2 separate regions of the Homo sapiens genome follow, and region 2 is linked to region 1. The links come from fine-mapping of genetic effects on gene expression. Tissue or cell type: whole blood. Region 1 holds a variant in brackets; the other region holds the start of a gene. All regions are shown on one strand. Distances are between the middles of the regions.

The links. PIP is the estimated chance that this variant, and not a neighbour inherited with it, causes the effect.
Region 2: it holds the start of ZNF385A, and the variant in region 1 is fine-mapped to the expression of ZNF385A in whole blood (TOPMed, PIP 0.93).

The regions. Positions count from the first base shown.
Region 1 is chr12:54,273,931-54,282,033 of GRCh38, forward strand. It overlaps CBX5 (chromobox 5), which reads right to left and starts at 6,192. Exons shown (of 5, transcript NM_012117.3): 1 at 6,078-6,192. It overlaps HNRNPA1 (heterogeneous nuclear ribonucleoprotein A1), which reads left to right and starts at 6,796. Exons shown (of 11, transcript NM_031157.4): 1 at 6,796-6,892; 2 at 7,456-7,572; 3 at 7,865-8,011. The coding sequence starts at 6,878. SCAT2 (S-phase cancer associated transcript 2) reads left to right here. Exons shown (of 2, transcript NR_157844.1): 2 at 4,722-5,133. RefSeq lists enhancers at 5,555-5,644, 5,797-6,556, 6,075-6,124, 6,415-6,504, 6,515-6,574 and 1 more and a cis regulatory region at 5,591-7,891. The variant G/T (reference allele first, on the strand shown) is at 3,552.
Region 2 is chr12:54,379,822-54,387,924 of GRCh38, forward strand. ZNF385A (zinc finger protein 385A) reads right to left here and starts at 4,912. Exons shown (of 7, transcript NM_015481.3): 1 at 4,607-4,912. The coding sequence starts at 4,693. The region is part of intron 1 of GPR84-AS1 (GPR84, ZNF385A, ITGA5 and GTSF1 antisense RNA 1); the gene reads left to right. RefSeq lists an enhancer at 7,469-8,103.

The DNA.
Region 1 (8,103 bases):
AAAAGAATTGTGTTTCAGATAACCCAAAGAATGTCTAAAACCTTTAATCCCTCATTTCAAAGGGTAAATTGAGGCTACTGCAGGATACAATTTGCCCCAAAGAAATTGGCAGATCTGAGAAGAGAAACTCAGAAAGATCTAATATTTACATAGCTGCTAACAAGAACAGTGTAGGTTTTTCTGCAAACATGCTAGTTGGTAGAGCTCCTGGACAGACTAAACATAGGCAGCAGTTGTCACAGTGGGTGTTCTTCCAGCACAAGTGTAAAGCTGTCATCAGAAATGAATATGTGGCTTCGAGTGGCTTACAGAAATCCAACAAATCTGCATCTTGGACTCTGGACAAGCGAACTCTTCTCAGGATGACCTGGACTCCTTCCTATTAGTACAATGATCAGTTAAAATCATTCTCTATAAGCAAGGAAGAAAAATAAAAGTTTATATCAGGAGAAAAAGATGATTGCCCAGAGTCCGAGTTCACGAATAGCAGATATGTAAACAGCCATACTAAGTCAAGTGGTATCTCATGTTGTAATTTATTACTTTTAAAATCAATATCCATAACACAGCTTTAGGCCCAGTTTCATGTAAGATGAATGGAAATAAAAATAATCTAAGTAAAAGGACAAAATAAAGACTAGAAATGCTTTACCAGGACAGTTATTAATTAAATGGGCTATACCAATAAGATATGGAAATCATGCTATGTGGTTAAAGACCTCAATAGAGCCGGGCACAGTGGCTCATGCCTGTAATTCTAACACTTTGGGAGGCCGAGGCGGTTGGATCATGAGGTCAGTAGATTGAGACCATCCTGGCTAACACGGTGAAATCCTGTCTCTACTAAAAATACAAAAAAATTAGCCAGGCATGGTGGCACGTGCCTGTAGTCCCAGCTACTCGGGAGGCTGAGGCAGGAGGATCGCTTGAATCCGGGAGGCAGAGGTTGCAGTGAGCCGAGATCACGCCACTGCACTCTAGCCTGGGTGACAGAGCGCGACTCTGTCTCAAAAACAAACAAATCTCAATAGAAACAAAAAGCGACTTAGTCTTCCTCAAAAATCTTTGTACCCTGATACCAAACCTTTCTCTTTTCTAGAGTATTGTTAAGGGCTCTGAGAATCTCCAGAATTTCCCTAGCCATATACAAATCCAGCCGCTTCAAATGTAGGCTCACTCTTTCTTTCCCCAACTATCATCCTGCTCACCTACTACCCAAATTGAAGCTTTCCACTTACTAGTTTTCAGACAGAATATATTCCCCTTTAGTAAACACCCCTTTTAGATTTGGTTGCAATAGTAGGTATGTCTCTAAGTTTTTTTTTCTTTTTTGAGACAGTCTCGCTCTGTCACCCAGGCTGGAGTACAGTGGTGCAATCTCGGCTCACTGTAACCTCCGCCTCCCAGGCTCAGCAATTCTCCTGCCTCAGCCTCCAGAGTAGCTGGGGCTACAGGCGTGTGCCACCACGCCCGGCTAATTTTTTGTATTTTTAGCGGAGATGGGGTTTCACCGTGTTAGCCAGGATGGTCTCAATCTCCTGAACTCATGATCTGCCCGCCTCGGCCTCCCAAAGTGCTGGGATTACAGGCATAAGCCACTGCGCCCAGGCAGTATGTCTCTAAGTTCTAAGCACAAGCGTTATAACTTCTGTAATTAGAGGCCCAACACGTATCACATTGGAAGTTAGGATTTCTAACTCTGTGATAGTACCAGAATTTCAATGAAAAATTACCCACTAAAATTTCACCACCAGAGAGAAAAGTTCATCATATCTATTAACTACCACATTGGAGGCTGGGCACAGTGGCTCACACCTGTAATCCCAGCACTTTGGGAGGCCAAGGCAGGCAGATCACCTAAGGTCAGGAGTTTGAGGCCAGCCTAACCAACATGGAGAAACCCCGTCTCTACTAAAAATTAGCCGGACGTATGCCTGTAATCCCAGCTACTCAGGAGGCTGGAGCAGGAGAATTGCTTGAACCTGGGAGGCGGAGGTTGAGGTGAGTCAAGATCGTGCCACCGCACTCCAGACTGGGCAACAAGAGCGAGACTCCATTCCAAAAAAAAAAAAAAAAAAAACCTATCACATTGGGAGACATTTTGCAATATTTTTATTGTTTTCCCTCTTTAAGCATTGTGAGACTTCACAATAAAACAAGCAGTTTTCACTTGCACACGACAGTAAACTAGAAAGTCTCGGTTTGGCTCCTATAATCTTTCAAAGTAAAACACATGAGTAAAAACACCAAATAATGGGTCACTGCTTAATCTGTTTACATAGATACTCCTTGATGGGGTTATGTCCTGATAAACCCATCATAGGTTGAAAATATGAAAAATTGAAAATTCATTTCCTACACCTAATCTACTGAACATCATAGCTTAGCCTAGCCTACCTTAAATGTGTTCAGAATACTTACATTAGCCTACTGTTGGACAAAATCACCTAACACAAAGCCTGTTTTATAATAAAGTGTTGAATATCTCATGTAATTGGTTGATTACTGTACCGAAAGTGAAAAACAGAATGGTTATGTGGATACTTGAAATATGGTTTCTACTGAATGCAAATTGCTTTCCACACCGTTGTAAAGGTGAAAAATCTTAAGTCGAAATATCACAAGCAAGGGACCATCTGTACAAGTGGCTGGGGCTGGAGATGGAAGGAACTGACTCAGAAAGCAATCAAAGTTGGCATGATTTGGTGACCTATTCTTCAGATCAGCAGTCTTTTTCCCCCAAAACCCTGGGTCTATAAACAGCTGTGAAATCAGTTCAATGGAAATTGACTGCTTTCTTAAGACAATGAAATAGTATACTGCAGACAAAAGAATATCAGAGTACTCTGCACGTTTAGTGAAATGTTTCAATGTGTGTACAGGATTAGTGTAAAATATATTTCTTATTGCGGTCAAAAAAGTTTTGAGACGTGGATCCAAAAGAATCCCAGGAAAAGAAAGAGGCTAGCTAGAATCAAGTGAAAAAGAAGGATGTGAGGCAAAGTCTACCTTCTTCAAAAACATATTTGCCATTATTTTAGGAAGCCAAACAAGGACAAGATGCAATCAATCGTATGTGTAAGTTTAAGCAGCAAAAAGTGGTAAAAACTTTTTTTTTCTGAGACAAGGTCTCACTCTGTCGCCCAGACTGGGGTGCAGTGGCATCATCTCGGCTCACTGCAAACTCTGCCTCCCAGGTTCAAGCGATTATCCCGTCTCAGCCTCCTGAGTAGCTGGGATTACAGGCGCCCACCACCATGACTGGCTAATTATTGTGGGTTTTTTTGTTTTGAGACGGACTCTTGCTTTGTCGCCCAGGCTGGAGTGCAGTGGCGCAATCTCGGCTCACTGCAACCTCTGCTTCCTGGGTTCAAGCAATTCTCCTGACTCCGCCTCCCGAGTAGCTGGAATTACAGGCACCCGCCACCACACCTGGCTAATTTTTTGTGTTTTTAGTAGAGACGGGGTTTCACGATGTTGGCCAGGCCGGTCTCAAACTCCTGACCTGAAGTGATCCACCCGCCTCGGCCTCCCAAAGTGCTGGGATTACA[G/T]ACATGAGCCACCACGCTCAGCCCAATTTTTGTTTTTAGTAGAGACGGGTTTCACCTTGTTGGCCAGGCTGGTCTGAAACTCCTGGCCTCAAGTGATCCGCCCACCTTGGCCTCCCAAAGTGCTGGGATTACAGACATGAGCCACCGGCGCCAGACCAAGTGGTAAAAATTTTAATAAAAATTTCCTTTTATTAAATGGAACAATGATCAATTCTGTATCTAAGGAGATAACATCAGGATTTAGTGATCCATTTACCAAAGGCCACTCCCTAAACATTTCAACCATCTTCTCACCTTTACCTATTTTCCAATTGGTAAAATAATGGATTTTGAAAAAATAATAAACTCTAGTGTTCTATTTTTATTTTTTTAGCAATGGGATCTTGTTGTGCTGCCCAGACTGGAGTGCAGTGGCTATGCACAGGCATAATCATCTCACACTGCACCCTTGACCTCCTGAACTCAAGCCTCCTACCTCAGCCTCAGCTTCCAGAGTAGCTGGGACTACAGGAACACGAAACTGTGCCCTGCATACTCCAGTATTTTAAATGAATGGTTTTCAACCAAGGGAGATTTTATCCCCCATCCCTACCTCCCCGGACATTTGGCAATGTCTGGAAACAATCTGTCACAAATGGGGATGTGGCGAGTGATGCGATGTTACTGGCATACAGTGGGTAGAGGCCAGGAATGTTGCTAAATATTTTACTATGCACAGGACACTCCGAGCACCCTCAACAAAGAATTATCTGCCTCAAAATACCAACAGTGCTAATGCTGAGAAACCTTGCTGTAGGTCAAGACTGTATTCCTTCCAAACCTAAATAAATCCAGGACAGATACCCTTAACCAGTATCACTTTAGTTCTCAGAAGCTCAGCAACTCCATTACTAGCATACCTACAAATAGGTTTACAGCCAGGTATAAATTATAGGTTTGTCCTTTTGCTAGTGCCAGAGAACATGGAAATCTCTCCTCTGTTCATAAACTGCTATTAAAATCGTCTGTCTTTGGTATAAAGTCGGAAAGGTCTCTAATTATAAGTGTATTTCATAGGTAGTTGATTTTCAGTATTTAAATATTTTCCCTTGATCCTGAATAAATTATTGAATAAAGCAGTAAGACTCTGATACAGCCAATGTTATCAAAATTTATTTATTTCTCCAAAAGATCCTGGAATAAGCAGAGTGGGCATTACCAAAAGGAGATAGACTGCATGTAAAACACACTTCGAAGGAAATCTAATTAAAAGGCAAGGAATAATCCAGGTGATGGATGAATCTTCTGTCCCCAGAACCCTAAATATTACCCTCTTTGTTTCTTTTTTATTCCAAAGTCAGATATCCTCAAAGGAACAGCAAAAAGAGGGACTTTAGGATATCTTCAATGGTGTAAAGAAAAGAAATATATGAAAGTTCCCGGGAGAAAGAGACTAAAATAAAAGCACTGGGCACATGGATTACATAAAACAGAAAAGGGGTTGTAAGTATGTGATTATGACTAGAAACACAAAACAATCGACTTCATTTTTTATTTAATTTTAATCACAAATTATTAACCTTGCAAAGTTTTAAACATTAAAGATCTAATCTGCCTCGATCCTACTGTGTCCCTAGGATTGACACTTTGGTGTGTAGCTTTCCAAAACTTTTCTGTGGACCTACAAACATATTTGTCAGTAGAAATATGCACTATCAGGAAGGAGATATTTCTTGAACGCCTTTCCATGACAGTACATAGAGATTTCTCCCATTCGTTCTAACATTTTAACAGTCTTCCTAAAGAAGCGACTTCTGAAAGTATTATTTAAAAACAAACAAACAAAAAAAAACAACTCCTGTTCCCCAAACCTCAAGTGGTGAGGGGGCGGGGGAAAAATGCTCAAGTCGAGGAATACAGGAGCAAACTTACGCTTTCAAGGAGGTGTATGGGACTGAGGCCTAAAGGCTTCGTTAGAGAAGTCATCGTGGATAAAACATCCACCCTCACACGCCATTACAGGCACCGACTCCCCTTCCTCACAACCCCAAATCGAAGACCTCCCTCTTTTGGAGAGCCGATTGGACGACTGGTCCCAGCGCTTTCCTTAGGCTGTCCGTCTACTGGTTCCAGATTCGTTCCATCCGTTTAACCGCCCGATCCCGCATTCCCCATTGGAGTCAAACCGCTGCCTCCTGGAGAAGCCCAACCTACCGCGCGCTTCCTGCTCACTGGCTCAGTGAGACGCTGCTCAGAAGGGGAAAACCCGTCTCCCACATTCCGATGGCCCAAGGGCCGATCAGTCGGCAGCTCAAGGCAGACCCAATTGGCCTATACACAAGCCAGTCAAAGTCTTCGGCTGCACAGCTCCAAAGAACCTACGGGGATTAAAACATCCCGCCCCCTGTTCTTCTATTGGTTGGCCCGACCCACCGCTGCCCCTTCACTATCCCCCCACCCCGCCGTCCATTCATTTCACACAATAACGGGCCCAAATGGAGTCAGTTCAAGACCTACTATGGGTAGATAAGACTGTCTGCCACTTACCCGGGATTGAGAGTGATCACTCACGCTAACGTCTGCCCTGTTCCTGTATGGTGAGGCCGCACCACAAGCCACCACCGCCGCCGCCTTCTGCGCAACGCCAACCGCCCGCCAAAACGGATCCTTCCCTGCGCCTGCGCAACCAATCCTGGGACCGGACCTTTTTTCTCCGCCCACTACGCATGCGCAAAGCTAGGACAAACTCCCGCCAACACGCAGGCGCCGTAGGTTCACTGCCTACTCCTGCCCGCCATTTCACGTGTTCTCAGAGGCAGGTGGAACTTCTTAATGCGCCTGCGCAAAACTCGCCATTTTACTACACGTGCGGTCAACAAGAGTTCATTGCAAAAAAATTGTTACCTCCTGGCTGCTTGTCTAATACATAGTGTTAATCATGCTTTGCCAAGCGACTTGACTGTAATATTTGCGCGTGGAAGATTAAAAAGATGTTAAACACCCAAGGTAGATTCAAATGTGAATGATTGGTCGGTTGGCCAATCAGACTGGTTAACAATAACATTACTCGGGAACCAATGGACTCCAAGGGGTGGAGACGGCGTAGAACGACCGAAGGAATGACGTTACACAGCAATGTGGCACCACAGGCCAATAGCAGGGGGAAGCGATTTCAAGTATCCAATCAGAGCTGTTCCAGGGCGGAGTCTACCAATGCCGAAAGCGAGGAGGCGGGGTAAAAAAGAGAGGGCGAAGGTAGGCTGGCAGATACGTTCGTCAGCTTGCTCCTTTCTGCCCGTGGACGCCGCCGAAGAAGCATCGTTAAAGTCTCTCTTCACCCTGCCGTCATGTCTAAGTCAGAGGTGAGTTAGGCGCGCTTTCCCACTTGAATTTTTTCCTCTCCCTTTCCTGAATCGGTAAGATGCTGCTGGGTTTCGTTCCTTGCACCAGCCCATTCTACAGTTCCTTCGGTCGCTGCCACGGCCTACCCCTCCCAAAGTTCAAGTCGCCATTTTGTCCTCTTGATCGCCATGAGGCCGCTCTCCGCCAACCATGAGTTATCATGCGGGACTCGTTACTCGTAGCAAAATTCTTAGGCACACAGGATCTTTGTCTTTTTTTAAACCTTGCCTTGGTGAGCGAGTTTTCTAAAGAGCGATTAGTCCCATTGTGGAGATGCACCCCTACCGCCCAAGCCTTTGTTGCGCGTGCGTCGGAAGGCGACTAGGGACGCATGCGCTTGCGATTTCCTAGCACTCCCAACTCCAGCATACGGCCTCCCTTGATAGGCAGAAGCACGTGTCTTGTTGCGACCTGAACGAACAATAAGTGCTAGGTACACAGTTGGTGTCTAGTTTTTCTTTTCCTCGATGGAAATTGTTTCGTGTTGTAGCCCATTTAACACTTCCCCCTCCCCCCACTCTAGTCTCCTAAAGAGCCCGAACAGCTGAGGAAGCTCTTCATTGGAGGGTTGAGCTTTGAAACAACTGATGAGAGCCTGAGGAGCCATTTTGAGCAATGGGGAACGCTCACGGACTGTGTGGTAAGATTTGGAAGGGACAAAGCAGTAAAACAGCCGATTTCCTTGGCTTATCTTGGTGCAGTCTTCTCCGAATGCTTATGAAAGTAGTTAATAGCATTATAGTTAGAGCTTTGTTGGCAAAGGAACGTCCTGCTTTGATTTTAAAAGCTACCTCTTAAATCTAGGGTAGTGGGAAACTGGACGACTTTTTATAAAAGGCTGGTGTAAAGTTTCCTATTGCCCTATTCAAAGTTAAAATGACAAAAGCTTTTGCGGTCAGACTTTGTGTTACATAAATTAACACTGTTCTCAGGTAATGAGAGATCCAAACACCAAGCGCTCCAGGGGCTTTGGGTTTGTCACATATGCCACTGTGGAGGAGGTGGATGCAGCTATGAATGCAAGGCCACACAAGGTGGATGGAAGAGTTGTGGAACCAAAGAGAGCTGTCTCCAGAGAAGTGAGTGGGTTTTTTTTCTTCTTCTTCTTAAACTTACTTGGATATGTGCTGCTATGGACTTAAGATTCGGGAGTTTTCTAAACTTACCAAAA
Region 2 (8,103 bases), 110 kb after region 1:
ACGCTTCGTGCACCTGCTGCCCTCTGGCGGTTCAGTGGGGGCAGCACTGGGGGACCAGAGGCTGTAGGGCCTAGCAGCCCACTCCCCCAGACACCTCGTTCTGTCTAGACAGGTCCTGGGATTCCCAGTATTTCATCTCTAGGTCTCATCTTCTCCCATCCCACCTAAGGCAGAGACATTAGTGAAGCAGGGGACTGGATCTAGAGAGAGGGTGGCTTTGGGAAACAGTGAGGGACGTCCAAGGGCAGAGGGAAGCAGTGGAGTGAGTGGGAGGAGAACGAGGGGAGACAGTAATTCTAGAAGAGGTCTAAGGAGTAGGAACTGCCCAAGTAGGAGAGAGCACTGGAGGTGCCAGTCCACTGGGAAAGAGAGACTCTGTCATGAATAATAATATCACCACCACCATCTAATGTTGATTGAGCCCTTGCAATGTGCCAGCTTCTGTACTGAGCTCTTTGCATGGATTATCTAATTTAATCTTCACAACCACTATTTGAAGTAAGTACTATTATTATCTTCATTTTATAGAGGAGGGAACTGAGGTTTAGAGAGGTTAAATAATTTGCCCAAGGTCATAAGCTAGTAAGTGACTGAACTGGGATTTGAATTTAAACCTGGGCAGTCTGACTCCAAAGCCACGTACTTAACTGCTGCACAGTACTTCCAAAGGCCTGTCTGCAGCTTTTCTGCAGTCCTCATTCCCCTGCAGAATTTGACAGTATTGATGCAGCCCGCCACACTCTCTCCCTTGGCTTCTCCAACTCTACAGGAACATATTTCCCTCCCCACCCGCTCCAGTGGCTTTTCCATTCCTTTTGCTGAAGCCTCTTCCTGTTCCCACTGCCTAATTCTGCACGTTCCCGAAGGCTAAGGCCTTGACCATCCTAAGTTTCTCTCTTTACTCCTCTTTTAAATAAAAACAATAGCAATAGCATAATAATCATAGCAGCTAACACTGATTGAGCACTTAGTTTGTGCTAGGCATTATGATTATGTAATATGATCTCACAACCTTGTGAGCTGGTGTTAATACTATCCCATTCTCAGCCTGGGCAACATGGCGAAACTCCATCTCTACTAAAAATACAAAAATTGGCCGGGCGCAGTGGCTCATGCTTGTAATCCCAGCACTTTGGGAGGCTGAGTCGGGCGGATCACAAGGTCAAGAGATTGAGACCATCCTGGCCAACATGGTGAAGCCCTGTCTCTACTAAAAATACAAAAATTAGCTGGGCGTGGTGGTGTGCACCTGTAGCCACAGCTACTCTGGAGGCTGAGGAAGGAGAATTACTTGAACCCAAGAGGCTGAGGTTGCAGTGAGCGGAGATTGGGCCACTGCACTCCAGCCTGGGGGACAGAGTAAGACTCTGTCTCAAAAAAAAAAAAAAGAAAAAGAAAAAAAGAAAAAAAGAAAAAAAAAAACTATCCCATTCTACAGTCAGTAAAACTGAGGTTCAGAATGGTTAAATAACTTGCCTAAGATCACACAGCCAGTACTTTGGAACATCAGTTTAAATCCTGCCAATCAGATGCAGGATGCAGTTCAACACCCTGCTGAACTCTTCAAGCTTATCCATGCTCATCGCTTTAAATACCTCTGCTAGAGGCAGTGGAGCCATGAACTCTGCAGGAGTCGAAACCCTGGATTATCCAATCAACTAAGTAGCTTTGTGACCTTGGACAATTCACTTAACCTCTCTGCGTCTGTGTTTCCTCATCTATACAATGGGGACAATGATGGGGTTGCTAAGATCTGAGGTCAAGTGTAAGTCAGGTGTTTAGATGGGGGGAGGTTTTCTCCCCATCTTATGACCTAGTCACATCCAATCTTGCACTTTCTCAAATGCTCCTTTCTAGCCCTTGTTCATGCTACTTACTTCAGTCTGGAATGTTCTCTAAGACTACTTTAAAAATCTTGCCAATAATTCTTCAAAGCCCAAATTATATGTCACCTGCTCCAGGTTAAATCCCTTTTTCCTCTGCTCTCTGTTTTTCTGCCTAACTCTGGTTGGTCCCTTAGGCCCCATCACATCCAGGAAGGTCTTTCTTGATACTTGGGCTTCCATGCAAGCAAAATGCCTCTGACACAGCTCTTCTCACACTGTATAGGGTAACTGTTAACTTGTTATCCTTCCTACCAAACTATGAGCTCCCCAAGTGTGGTAACTGAGTCCCGTGTCCCTGACACCAGGCACAGTACCCAGCACATAGTAGGTGCTCAAAAAAAATTTTTTTTTTGTTAAATTGAATTTTTTTTTTTTTTTGAGATGGAGTTTCACTCTGTTGCCCAGGCTGGAGTGCAGTGGCGCAATCTCGGCTCACTGCAACCTCTGCCTCCCAGGTTCATGCCATTCTTCTGCCTCAGCCTCCGGAGTAGCTGGGAGTACAGGCGCCCGCCACCACGCCCGGCTAGTTTTTTGTTGTTTTTTTTTTTAGTAGAGACGGGGTTTCACCATGTTAGCCAGGATGGTCTCAATCTCCTGACCTTGTGATCCGCCTGCCTCGGCCTCCCAAAGTGCTGGGATTACAAGCGTGAGCCACCACGCCTGGCCCAGTCTGAAAACTTAAAAGTGCAATGCAAATGTGTGTCTGGGTCCCTCATTTGGGGGGAGCAGCTGTGGTATAACGATAAGTCTGTTTAGAGTCAGATGCAATGGGTTCAAATCATACCTTAGGCACATACTGTGTCAACTTATATAAATTACTAAACCCTTCTGAGGCTTAGTTTTTGCTTTCTTATTTGTTAAATGGAATAATAATGTCTACCTTGTTGGGTTGTTGTGAAGGTGAAATGAGATTGCAGATAGAAACATCTGCTACAGTGCCTGGTGTGTAGTCAATGCTCAATACATGTTTATGGCTAAATATGGTTTGATGTGGGTTATTTAAGTTGAATAAGGCTGACTTTCCCCAAACTTTTAGCTCTAGCCCACCTTCCAGGCTTCAGATTCTAACTATCTGTAGAACATTTTGGGCTCAATGTCCTACTGGTATGCCAAATCACCATATCCTTTTTTTTTTAAAAAAAATATTTATTATTATTTTTTAAAACAAAACAAATAGGCCAGGCACGGTGGCTCAAGCCTGTAATCCCAGCACTTGGGAGGCTGAGGCAGGTGGATCACAAGGTCAGGGTTCCAGACCAGCCTGGCCAAGATGGTGAAACCCCATCTCTACTAAAAATACAAAAATTAGCTGGGCATGGTGGTACGTGCCTGTAATCCCAGCTACTGAGGAGGGTGAGGCAGGAGAATGGCTTGAACCCAGGAGGCGGAGGTTGCAATGAGTCAAGATCATCATGCCACTGCACTCCAGCCTGAGAGATTGAGCAAGACTACATCTCAAAAACAAAACAAAACAAAACAAAACAAATAAAGCTTTAGCTTTAGCACCACATGCTAAAGCATCATCCTCACTGGAGACCAGCTTCCTCTTCCAACCCTCTGCCTCTGTCAGTGGTGACTTCCATCCAATCACAAAGGCCTGAATGCTGGAGTCATCCTTGACTCATGCCTTCTCTTCTCCCCCACCCCCAAACACCAGTTGGTCACCATGGCCTGTCAATATTTCCTTGAAATTACCTCCCCCATTCTCCCTTTCTCTCCACTCATACTGCCACTGCCACCAGCCCCGTCTGGCTTTTGAGGCTTCCCTCGGGCCTGCATTGCTAGGACAGCCTCCTAACTGTCACCTTCCTCCTGCCTCTGTTCCCTTTCATCCAGTTGCCCCACTCACCTTCCTCAAACACTGCTCTTACCAAGTCACTCTCCTGCTCAAGAATAGACAGTGGCGGCTGGGTGTGGTGGCTCATGCCTGTAATCCCAGCACTTTGGGAGGCTGAGGCAGGCGGATCACCTGAGGTCAGGAGTTTGAGACCAGCCTGGCCAACATGGTGAAACCCCATCTCTACTAAAAATACAAAAATTAGCCCGGTGTGGTGGCACACGCCTGTAATCCCAGCTACTTGGGAGGCCGAGGCAGGAGAATCGGTGAACTGGGGAGGTGGAGGCTGCAGTGACCCAAGATCGTGCCACTGCACACCAGACTGGGCAACAGAGTGAGACTCCGTCTCATAAAAACAAACAAACAAACACACGAATAGACAGCACCTCCTTATTTCATATTGTATTAAATCTAGACCACCTTGCCAGTCCTCCAAGCCCTATCCCACTGATGCTACCCACCCAGCCGTGGACTGCAGAGAGGTGAAACTTACAAACAGGCATGCTTATTTTCCTGCTCATTCCCTCTTTCTGGATTCAGCACCTACACCCCTCCTACCTCCCTACTGTTACTACCACCAATTTAAGTCTCATTACTTCTCTAGATGGTAGGGCGATTCACTGTAGGACTAAATGAGATAATTCATATAAAACACTTAGCACAGTGTCTGGCCCGTAGCAAGACCTCAGCAAATATTAGCTATTATTATTGTTGTTAACACTGTACCAGATGGCCCACAATACTCAAAATTAACTAGAATTAAGGAAGATGGGGTCATAAGAGGAGATAAGGAATTAGAAACAGAAGAAGAGGGCAGAGGTGGGTCTGAGAGAGAAAGGTCGGGTCACAAGAGGATGGAGAAGGCAGGCAGGCTGCTACTTACGGTGCTGTAGTTGCTGAAGAGGCCAAGGGTAGGGGCTGGCTCGAGTGGGAAGGGCAGGATCTGCTTGAGGTCCAGTGGGGGCTGCATGATCGGGGGCTGCCGTAGCAGAGGCAGGGGCCCTGCCCGGCTCAGGCTGCCTGAAGGGCAGAGAAAACATTCTGTGGGGTAGGAAGATTAAAGCTTGGGAACCCCACCCAAGCCTGCCAGTCCCACTCCCTAGCCAGGGCCCCCACACTCAGAAGTGTCACCCTCAGTGCACATAGTGTACACACTTCCCCTGCTGGCTCCAGAGCAATGGAGCACAGTGCCCTGTGGGCCTGGGGGAGGGTGTAGACCAGTCCTTCCCTTCTGGGTGGTTTTCACTTCCCCCTTTTCCAGCCTCCCTCCCCCAAACTCCTTAGGCACATTACAGACCCAGTAAGAGCTCATACCTTTTCTGCAGGCTGCCTGCTGAACCAGCAGGACTCCCAGCCTCAAGCCCCTGGCCACCCTCTTCTTCTGGTTTTGCTTTCCCCCAGGGGATCCTAAAGCTTGGTATCGCCCCAGGAAGAAGAGAGTCAAGTGGGTGATTCATCCTACTGACCAGAGGGGGATATTGAGACTTAGATTTGGAGGGGGGCTGCTGAATCTCTCAGATGCCCTAGAATTAGATTTTGCTCTAACTATAATTCTTTATTAACTATTGACATCTGTGGGGGTAGGTAGTGGGTTGGGTGGCTTTTGCTCTGGGAGGTGAACTACCTAGGCCATTCTCAGAGCCCCTTCTCCCAACCTTCCTCAGTCTTCCCCCATGCCCTTTTGTCTCACCAGGAATGCTCAGCTACAGGTCCAGTTCTGCAGGAGGAACCTCGACCTGGCCTATGGGCGGGGAATGCCTGGGTCTGACCCCAAGGGGAAATGAAAGTCCAGGCCAGCCATTCAACTACCCTTCTCTGAAACCTTCTCCTCCTCCTCTCAGAGTCACGGGAGGAACTCCACCAGACTCCAAAGGGGCAGCCCAAAGGTCCTCAGAGCCCTTCTGGGCTTCCACTGGCCCAGCTCCCTTCTGCGACCCTGCTGTGCACCAGCTGGGGAGTTCTGGCCGCCCTTCACTGCTCCAGTAACCCCCTGACAGCAACAGGGGTTCCCAGGAACAAAGGCAAACCGAGGAGGCTGCGTGCTTGGCCCGTCCTCCCTTGACTTTACTAGAGCAGAAGGTCTCCAGGATCCCTTCCTGTTCCCTCCAGACACCACCCCCTTTCATACCTTTAGTTTCTGATGCCTGCTGCCCCCAGGCAGTGGCCTGGCCCTGGCCCCCCAGGGGCCTGGGCCTGACAGCGTCCCCTTCCCTTGGTTCTGCCCTCTGCCCCCTCCCTTGCCAGCCCCCTCCCCCTCAGCCCAGTCAGTAGAATCAGCCAATCAGAATCCTGGAAAAGTGGGGCAGAGGGGAGGGCAGGGGAGCAGGGATTAGGGGAATCTGAGGCGACAGGGAGGGGGTGGGGAGGGCTCAGGCACAGCTGGGGGCTGGGAGCTGGTCCAGAAAGGTCTGGAGGGGTCTGTCTCTTTCACCCCATGCCAGGATGGGTGGTCAGGGTGACTGAGACAGAGCAGGGGGTCAAGGCTACTGGGAGTTTGGGCTTCAGAATTCTCAGGGCTAAAGGAGAGGGTAAGATCCTTGGCTTTGACCCTTAAGTAGCTGGGGGTCTGTATGCTTTGTGTCTATTCCCTCCTCTGTCACCTTCAAGGTTGGGATGGGGTGGAGAGAGGACACACACACACACACACACACACACACACACACACAGAGAGACGGACAGATGAAAGTGAGTGAGAGGATGGGAGAGTGGTAGCAGCAGGAATAGGTGACTGAGGAATCGGACAGTGACACTGAGAGAGAAAAGGATAGAGAACAATGGAGAGATGTCAGAGAGCGAAATCAGACATACAAACAGAGAGACACTGCCGAAAAGCTGGACACAGAACTAGAGACTAGGGCAGACAGACCGAGAGACAGAGAACAGAGACAGCGAGAAAGATAAAAGAGAAGAGAGAGGGACAGATAGATGGATGGGGCAGCTTGACCACCTCCCCTTCCTGGTCTGTCCCCTTATGGCATCTGCCCTCTGTGCCCCACCCTCCCTTACTGCCTGTTACCCAAGGCCAGGGCAGCCTTAATGAGCCCCAGGCGGCATCAGGAATGGTGAGAGAAACCTGAGTGCTCCCAGAGTCCCCTGCACCCAGCATCCACCCCCAGCAGCTGGTTTTGGGCTGGCACTTGCCCTGCCCCAGAGCACCAGAGGCTGAAGCTTGGCTTGACCCTTTCCCTGGTTCTAGATTTCTCTAGGCTCCCACTCCTCAAAGCCATCTTAAGAGGAGACAGCAGAGTTCCAGAAAAAGCCACAGAAAAAAATTTGAGGCTACTATGTGCCAGGTAATGAATTCCAAGTATTATCATATTTAACCTCTGAAGTAGCTCAATGAAGTAGCCATGATTCAATGAAGTAGCTGATAATATTTTTCTACTTGACTTATGAGGAAATGGAGACTCAGAGTAGTTAACAAACTTGGCTGATGTCACACAGCCTGTAAATATCAGAGCTGAGATATAGATCAAGATCTGCTGGACTCTACAGCAAATTCTTTCTCTGCTACCTTACTCCCAAAGGGCTTGAATTTAACTGAAGCAGAGATCTGAGCACAGGCTTCCATCTTGTTCAAGGAGAGGAAGGGGAGAGCAGGTTCCATGCACTTCCTCAGGTTGGAGTCCTCATTTTTCCTCCAGAGGAGGGATAGAGGAAAACAGGTAGCAGCCACTCAGTTATCTATGGCTAACAACTCATCTTTTCCACAGACATGAGCCCTGGGTGAGCGGGGGAGGGGAGGGGAGTGGAGTGGGAGAGAGGGGTCAAATGAGGGTACAGTGAGGGAAGGAAGCAGGCAGGCAACTGGAGACAAACTATCTACTTCCCAGATTCCTGGGTCCACTCCATTCTGAGGTGGCGAGAGAGGCAGATGGCAGCTTTTGGGCCGGGTGGGCAGAAACAGGACTCTTGGTTTCAGGTAGCCCAGGCCTTAGGCCTCTCCCTCTCTTTTTCTGAGGCTAACAATAGTTGCCGCTTTTTGAGGCTTTACTATAGGCCAGGCACTTTACATACACAATCTCCCAGTAGGTGGTCCCACCACTCACTAGCTGGGTGAGCAGCTAGGTTCTCTGACTCTCAGTCTCATTTCTCATCTGTCAAATGAAAACAACACTACTTGCCTCACCAAGTTGTTGACAGGATTGAACAAATCCATGTAAGATGCTGGCATGTCACAGTGAGAACTCAATAAATATTTGCTGAATAAATGAATCTCATCTTATAGATGATGACAATTGGCTCAGAAGGAGAGTTATTTGGCCAAGGTCACACAGTTAGTGAGTGACGTGAACCTGTCTGTCTGGTTCCAGAGACAGGGCTTTCAAGCACTACACTTTTCTGGGTAGATCTGGAAGGGGAGGAGGGGAAAAGGCAGGA